Homo sapiens: one gene and its partner. The protein of the gene in region 1 purifies or fractionates together with the protein of each later gene. This does not show direct contact. Each region holds a gene or a part of one and is shown in the gene's direction. Other genes may lie near its edges. The genes, in order: DLL3 and CGRRF1.

Region 1 (3,817 bases):
CTGGGGTCTCTGTGACTATTTTGATATAGGAAGATCCAGAGGCACAATTTAGGGGTGTTATGACCTCACTTCAGACATGTTATTGTTCTTTGGCCATATGGAGGTACCAAATGTCACAGGGTGTTAGAGGTCTCATCATTACTTCAATTTACAAAGATCTGGGTCAAGGCCCGGCGCGGTGGCTCACGCCTGTAATCCCAGCACTTTGGGAGGCCGAGGCGGGCGGATCAGGAGGTCAGGAGATTGAGACCATCCTGGCTAACATGGTGAAACCCTGTCTCTACTAAAAATACAAAAAAAATTAGCCGGGCGTGGTGGCAGGCGCCTGTAGTCCCAGCTACTCGGGAGGCTGAGGCAGGAGAATGGCGTGAACCCGGGAGGCGGAGCTGGCAGTGAGCCGAGATCACACCACTACGCTCCAGCCTGGGCGACAGAGTGAGACTCCGTCGCAAAAAACAAACAAAAAAAAAACAAATATCTGGGTCAAAATACAGGAGTATTACGGTTTCTATGAGATAACTGTTTATTTTTTATTTTTATTTTTTTGAGAGGGAGTCTTGCTCTGTCACCCAGGCTGGAGTGCGATGGCCGATCTCGGCTCACTGCAACCTCCACTTCTGGGTGCAAGTGATTCTCCTGCCTCAGCCTCCCGAGTAGATGGGATTACAGGTGCGTGCCACCACGCCTGGCTAATTTTTTTAAAGAATTTTTTATTTTTAGTAGAGACGGTTTCACCATGTTGATCAGGCTGGTCTTGACCTCAGGTGGTCCACCCGTCTCGGCCTCCCAAAGTGCTGGGATTTCAGGCTTGAGCCACCATGCTTGGCTGAGAGAAATGTTACCTAGAGTACTAGAAAGGACCACGACATTGCAGGTCCCAGGGTGCATTGGGGAGTTCGCAGCCTTGCTAAAGTAGAGGGTGACTGCCATTCTACTCGCGAGGTCCAAGGACCCCAGGGCTCCATGAGGGTGTTTTGGCCTCGCTGGGAGGGGCGGGGAGAATGCGGCCGGGGCGCTCCGTATGCATCCATGTTCGGCCGGGCCCACCCCAGCACCCCTCCTTTGCCTGTCCTCGCAGGGCCCGCCTGGAGCCTGCTGGCGCGCGTGGCTGGCAGGCGGCGCTTGGCAGCCGGAGGCCCGTGGGCCCGGGACATTCAGCGCGCAGGCGCCTGGGAGCTGCGCTTCTCGTACCGCGCGCGCTGCGAGCCGCCTGCCGTCGGGACCGCGTGCACGCGCCTCTGCCGTCCGCGCAGCGCCCCCTCGCGGTGCGGTCCGGGACTGCGCCCCTGCGCACCGCTCGAGGACGAATGTGAGGCGCCGCGTGAGTCCTGCGTTCGACCCCACCCCGTCCCAGCCGGGGACCCCGGCCCCTCCTGAGCGTCACTCGCGGCCCCCAGTCCCCTCTCACAACCCACTCACCCTCTTCAGGGTACTCTAGAGTCCCCCACCATGTACCCCAGGCACCCCTCTTCAGGGAGCTGGGGAACGCGCTGACTGCTGCGGATGTATCCCAAACCCCGCCCACCATCCAGCTGCCACCTTCGGAGAAACTGAGGACCCTGGACCTCTCTCCAGCCCTGCCTTGCTACTCGAGCCCCCTTCCCTCTCCCAGCCCTCTTGTTGCCCCAAATCGGAAGCCCACGTCCATTTTCTATGCTGGCACCCTCCAGTTCCTTCCCTAACCCACATTCACACCCTGTCCTGATGCTAGGACTCCAAAGCTCTTCTAATTCTGCGGCCCTCCCGACTCCCACTCGGAAGCTTTGGAATCTCCTCCCAGTCCACTCTGGCCAAGGGGCCCTCCATCCTCCCTCCCTAGGGTTGCAGGCCAGAACCCATGGCTTCTTAAAGCTTGGAATTCTTCAGACTTCTCCCCAAATTTCAGAGCCCCACCAAGGCCCCTAGGACTCCCAGGCTAATCCAGATCTTCTCAGAGCCACCCTAATTCAATACACTCCCATCTTCCCTGAAAGGCCAGGGGTCCCCCCACCAATCCCAAATCCCCTCACTGTCTCCTATCCTCACGATCTCACCTGGGTGCCCCTGTCCCATCCTCTTTCCAAGAGCACAGACTCCAGCCCGATGGCCTGGGTTCACATCATCACTCCTCCACTTCCTAGGTGGGCTGGTCACCTCGTCTCTGTGGGCCTCAGTTTCCCTATCTGTAAACTGGGGGGGCGGTCACAGTACCATCTAGTCCCGATGATTATCTGTCACAAAGATGAAGCAAGGTGGCTCAGGGAACGTGCTCAGAAACCTCCCTGCTTTCCATCTTGTCCCTGGCCCTCCCCGACGTTGGTGTTCCCTTTCTCTCTGCCTCTCTGTCCCCCATAGTGGTGTGCCGAGCAGGCTGCAGCCCTGAGCATGGCTTCTGTGAACAGCCCGGTGAATGCCGATGCCTAGAGGGCTGGACTGGACCCCTCTGCACGGTCCCTGTCTCCACCAGCAGCTGCCTCAGCCCCAGGGGCCCGTCCTCTGCTACCACCGGATGCCTTGTCCCTGGGCCTGGGCCCTGTGACGGGAACCCGTGTGCCAATGGAGGCAGCTGTAGTGTCAGTGTCACCCTTCCCACCTTGTCCTGCTTAGTACTTTACCCTGGGAGCCACAGCCCTCTCCCTGGGGCTCCATGAGACACCAGCCTGGGGAGGAGATCTGGGAATAACTATCAGGGAGGTCTTCCTGGAGGCATCCAGCCGGCATCTGGGGCCTTGAAGTAGGATTAGGTGATGGGGATGGGACTGGGGAGAGCAGGCTCAGTGGGTGGCCCCGAAAGATGCAGGAGTGGAAATGATGAGGAGCCGTGTGGGGCCACAGCTGCCCCTACTGCGGGACTGAGAACGATTCAGGGCCCAAGGTAGTGGGTGGTGGGGCCAAATAGGTTGGAGATTTGGGATCTGCGGGCACAGGGGGTGGAGACATCAGAGAAGGCTTCCTGGAGGTGGCCCGGGGCTGGGGCTTCTGGGACGTGATTAGAGAGGGTGGCCAGGTGAGTGGCCTGCAGGGAGCAAGGGTGCAGAGGTGGCAGTGAGTGAGCCTGGCATGGAGTGCTGGGATAGAGTAGGGTCCAGTGTGGGCCACCTGGATACTGCCACACTCAGGGTTCAAATACTTAGGGAGAGGCCCTGGGAAGGAGAGATCCAGAGAAGCCTTCCTGGAGGAGGTGGGCTGAGATCTAGGACCTCCCAGTAGGACTCGTCAGTGTAGACAGAAGCGAGCAGGGCAGACCAGGCAGGCAGCATTTGGTAGGCAAAGATGTAGGGGTGGGAATGGGGTCACTCTGGGTCCCCAGAGCCTCCTCCCTCTGGGGTCACATGGGCAGACAGAAGAATGTGGAGTGGATCGAGGGGATGTCGGGAGGACCTCCCAGGGTGGCCCCTGCATAGTGGGACTTGAGACTGGACAAGGAGCAGCCCCCAGTGGTTAGGACTGAGGAGGGGGATGGGATTTTTCTCCAAGGAAACACCCTTCTCAAGTACTCTTGTCCCTGCCCAGGAGACACCCAGGTCCTTTGAATGCACCTGCCCGCGTGGGTTCTACGGGCTGCGGTGTGAGGTGAGCGGGGTGACATGTGCAGATGGACCCTGCTTCAACGGCGGCTTGTGTGTCGGGGGTGCAGACCCTGACTCTGCCTACATCTGCCACTGCCCACCCGGTTTCCAAGGCTCCAACTGTGAGAAGAGGGTGGACCGGTGCAGCCTGCAGCCATGCCGCAATGGTGAGGCCTGGAGGCCTGAACGGCGAGGGATGGGGTGGGGGTCCTGGATGGCTCAGACAGTCCAGGGTTGGAATCCTGGCTTTGACTCTTCTAACCCTAGGG
Region 2 (3,817 bases), on another chromosome or scaffold:
ATACTAGAAGCATGTTTATTGCTTCAGAATAAGCACTCCTCAAGCATTAGAAGATGCTCTGTGGAGTGAATATCTCTATCAGGAACAGTATTTGTATCCTTTCATCTGATATACCCATTAGCACTGAAAATTAGACTTCTTATGGATAAAGTGTTGCTAACTTATTGATCATTTTTGGTATACTAGAAGCATGTTTATTGCTTCAGAATAAGCACTCCCCAAGCATTAGAAGATGCTCTGTGGAGTGAATATCTCTATCAGGAACAGTATTTGTATCCTTTCATCTGATATACCCATTAGCACTGAAAATTAGACTTCTTACGGATAAAGTGTTGCTAACTTATTGATCATTTTTGGTATACTAGAAGCATGTTTATTGCTTCAGAATAAGCACTCCTCAAGCATTAGAAGATGCTCTGTGGAGTGAATGTCTCTATCAGGAACAGTATTTGTATCCTTTTATCTGATATACCCATTAGCACTGAAAATTAGACTTCTTATGGATAAAGTGTTGCTAACTTATTGATCATTTTTGGTGTATTTTTGTTCTTATGGTTATAGTGGCAATTTACCTTTACATTTTCAAAAAGTATTAAAAAGGATAGCAAAGAAGAAATATATTGCCAGTTACCAAGAGATACTAAAATTGAAGACTTTGGTACAGTACCCAGATCTCGCTATCCATTGGTAGCGCTATTGACCTTAGCTGATGAGGATGACCGGGAAATTTATGATATTGTAAGTAATTGAAAATTTTGAAAGCATTACCTTTAAGTGATTTGAATGGTGGTTCTTCATTATTTGATAAATAGAAAAAGTTTTATTTTAATTTCTGAGGATGTGCATTTGGCCTACAACAACTATATACCTATTTGGTTTTTATATGTGAAACAGTACCTTCAGATTATGACTCATTTCTTGCCTTATGGGTCACAGTAATATGACTTTATTTGGAAAATAAAAGATATATAATGGTTGAATTAAGTTAGTTTCATCATTAACACCTATTTGGTTGTATACACCTATTTAGTTTTTATATGTGTAACAGTACCTTCAGAGTATGACTCATTTTTTGCCTTATGGATCACAGTAATATGACTTTATTTGGGAAATAAAAGATATATAATGGTTGAATTAAGTTAATTTCATCATTCTGTATTCTGTCATATTTGCTGTATAGAAACAGTCTGTTGGGAAGCATGTTTATTCTGAACATGTTTAGCAGTGAATAAATAAGCACAATAATGATCGAAAGTGCTCAATTTTAAGATAGTATCCACTCTTTTTTTGCCTGCTTGCAGTCACCTTGTTTCCATCAAAGTCCCTGCTGCACCTATATCTTATATGTCTGGTCCCTGTATTTTCAGTAATTATAATAATCTCCTTTCCTCATTATGTGCTAATTATTTTTTCAGTCTGATAGTTGATTCCTATTAGGAAGTTAAAAGTATCTTAGAGATCTAAGAGGACTGAAACTTTGACAATCATCTGAGTATAATAGAAACTTAGACATGAAATAAACTTTTGATGAAATTGTATCATGGTAAAAATGTCCTTACACACAATTGACTACTTTTCTGAAGTATTTAATATAGATTATTCATTAATAAACATATGGTAACATTGTTTTGTGATATTCGTAATATGCAAAGTACGTTCACAAACATGAACTTATTTTTTTCTTCTAACAACCTGGTTTCTTAGGACAGGGCAAATATTCTCCTTTCACAGACTGAAACAGAGTCAAGAAAAATCCCAGTCATTCAGGCAGTAAGAGATGGAACAAGAGCTTGACTCTGAGCTTTTTGTGTGTGTTTGTTTGTTTTTGTTTTTTGAGTTTATTTTTTTTAGCAGGAATATCTTCCTGCAACAAGTGTACATTGAGCTTTGGAAGGTAAAGACTCTTTGGGAAATCTAGACCCTTCTTACTCATTTGCAGTTAAGCACCTAGGTTTTTGGTTTTTAATATTTTCAAACTGAAGTTCCATTGAGCTGAGGTCAGCTTATTTTTTCCAAGTCATGGGGAGCAGAGGGGAAGGAAATGGGGATATGTAGGTCACTAGAGACAAAGTTACAGATACATAAAATGAACAGGTCTAGAGATCTAATGTACAGCATAAAGACTATAGTTAATGTGGTATTGCTTTTGGGATTTTTGGTGCTCTTGCCACATGCAAAAAAAGTGGAAGTAACTGTGTAAGATGATGCGTAATTTGCATTATAATAGTAACCATTTCACTAGGTATATATATATCAAAACATCCTGTTGTACACCTTAAATATATACAATAAAAATACAAAATACAAAAGTCATACCAGCAGTAGTGTATTTCCAGAACCTAGTACAGTGCCTAGGATATAATAGGGGTTCAATAAAGATTTGATAAGTAAAAAAAAAAAAAAAAAGTCATACTAGACAATGTTAATGAGCCTCATAGAGCTTGACAGCGAAACACCTTAGCTGTACATCCCATGCACCTTAGCGTGCATGAGAGGCCTTCTGGCTTCCTCCCTCCTTTCTCTCAGTTTCAGTTAGAGATAAATAAAACCTGTTAAATTGGTGTCTCCTATTTCTAGCTTCTTTGTTCTTGACCCTGTGTACTTGGGCAAGGAAGCCCTTCTGCCCCCACTGTGTGCCCCATCTCTGCTGAGTTTCTTGGGTTCTGTTCTCCTTTTTCCTTTGGTTCAGCACAAAAGGATCAGATCGCAGTCATTTTCCCTCCCAGCTTCCCCATTGCATTCCTTTTCCCTTCACTGATAGTGCTCTCTAGGTGCTCAGGGTCTTTTTTTTTTTCTAACTTTCTTCCCCTGTCCAAACAGGGAGTGATTGTGTATCTGTGTGGTAAAATATATATATTTTATATATAAAGTTTACCATTTTAACCATTTTTGTGTGTGTGTTTTCAGTTCAGTGGCCTTTTAGGCCAGAGAAGAGTTTGCTCTCAGGTCCCTGATCACACTGGATGAAGACTGTGTGGCCCAGCTGTAGTTGTGGGAGGCTTGTTCCCATAGGGAAGCCTGAGTGTCTCCCAAGGGTTAACAGCCATCTTCTCTTGTGCTTTGTGTATGTCTCTGTGTCTGGGTCCTTTTGAATGTCTTTTATTCTCATCTGTGGGCTCCCTCCTTTTTTCCTGTTAATCCTTGCTTCTCGTCTTATTTCTTAGATTGGGGGTAATATTGGCACTCAAATATATTTATTAGTGTATTTTGTATTAATGTTCTCTGTTTATAATTTTAAAAGCAAATGGACCATTTCCTATTTCTTTTTCATATGTGTTTTTTCAGTATTGTATGTGCGTGTCAGGGACTATATTTTTTTAAAAAATTTATTAATAAAATCATTTTTATTTTAACAGCAAAGAATTATATTTAGGTAGTACAGTTAGGAACCACTTTGTTGTTTTAGATTAAAAAAAGGAAAGCAGGAATTGTTACTACAAAATTTTGACTTTAAAATTTTTTCATTTTTAGTTAATTACATTGGCTTTTTTTCAGTATTATTCAAATAATACATTTGTGGCAGGAAAAAAAATTAGAAAGTGTAGATAAGCCAAAAGGAGAGAAGTATAATAATCTGTATTCTATCATCCAAAAATAATCACTGTGAATATTTGTCTGTATCTTTCCAAATCTTTATATATGTAATTAAAAAAGGGATAAAATTATACATTTTATACTATTTTGTGACCTGCTTTCACTTAGTAGTATATTCAAACATTTTTTCCATATCAAATATTTACCCACAACTACATATATAACTAGTATGATAATAGCTTCAGAGACTTTTAATATTAAATCAAATGACAAAATTGGTTTT

The links.
Region 2: the proteins of DLL3 (region 1) and CGRRF1 purify together in Homo sapiens (affinity purification with mass spectrometry; one large-scale study listed by BioGRID and IntAct). This does not show direct contact.

What each region holds. Positions count from the first base shown.
Region 1 is NC_000019.10:39,501,737-39,505,553, forward strand, and holds part of DLL3 (delta-like protein 3 isoform 2 precursor), read left to right. Parts: intron 1-1,078; coding exon 1,079-1,321; intron 1,322-2,334; coding exon 2,335-2,552; intron 2,553-3,492; coding exon 3,493-3,715; intron 3,716-3,817. UniProt on the Homo sapiens protein: Inhibits primary neurogenesis. May be required to divert neurons along a specific differentiation pathway. Plays a role in the formation of somite boundaries during segmentation of the paraxial mesoderm.
Region 2 is NC_000014.9:54,530,313-54,534,129, forward strand, and holds part of CGRRF1 (cell growth regulator with RING finger domain protein 1), read left to right. Parts: intron 1-590; coding exon 591-738; intron 739-3,817. UniProt on the Homo sapiens protein: Able to inhibit growth in several cell lines.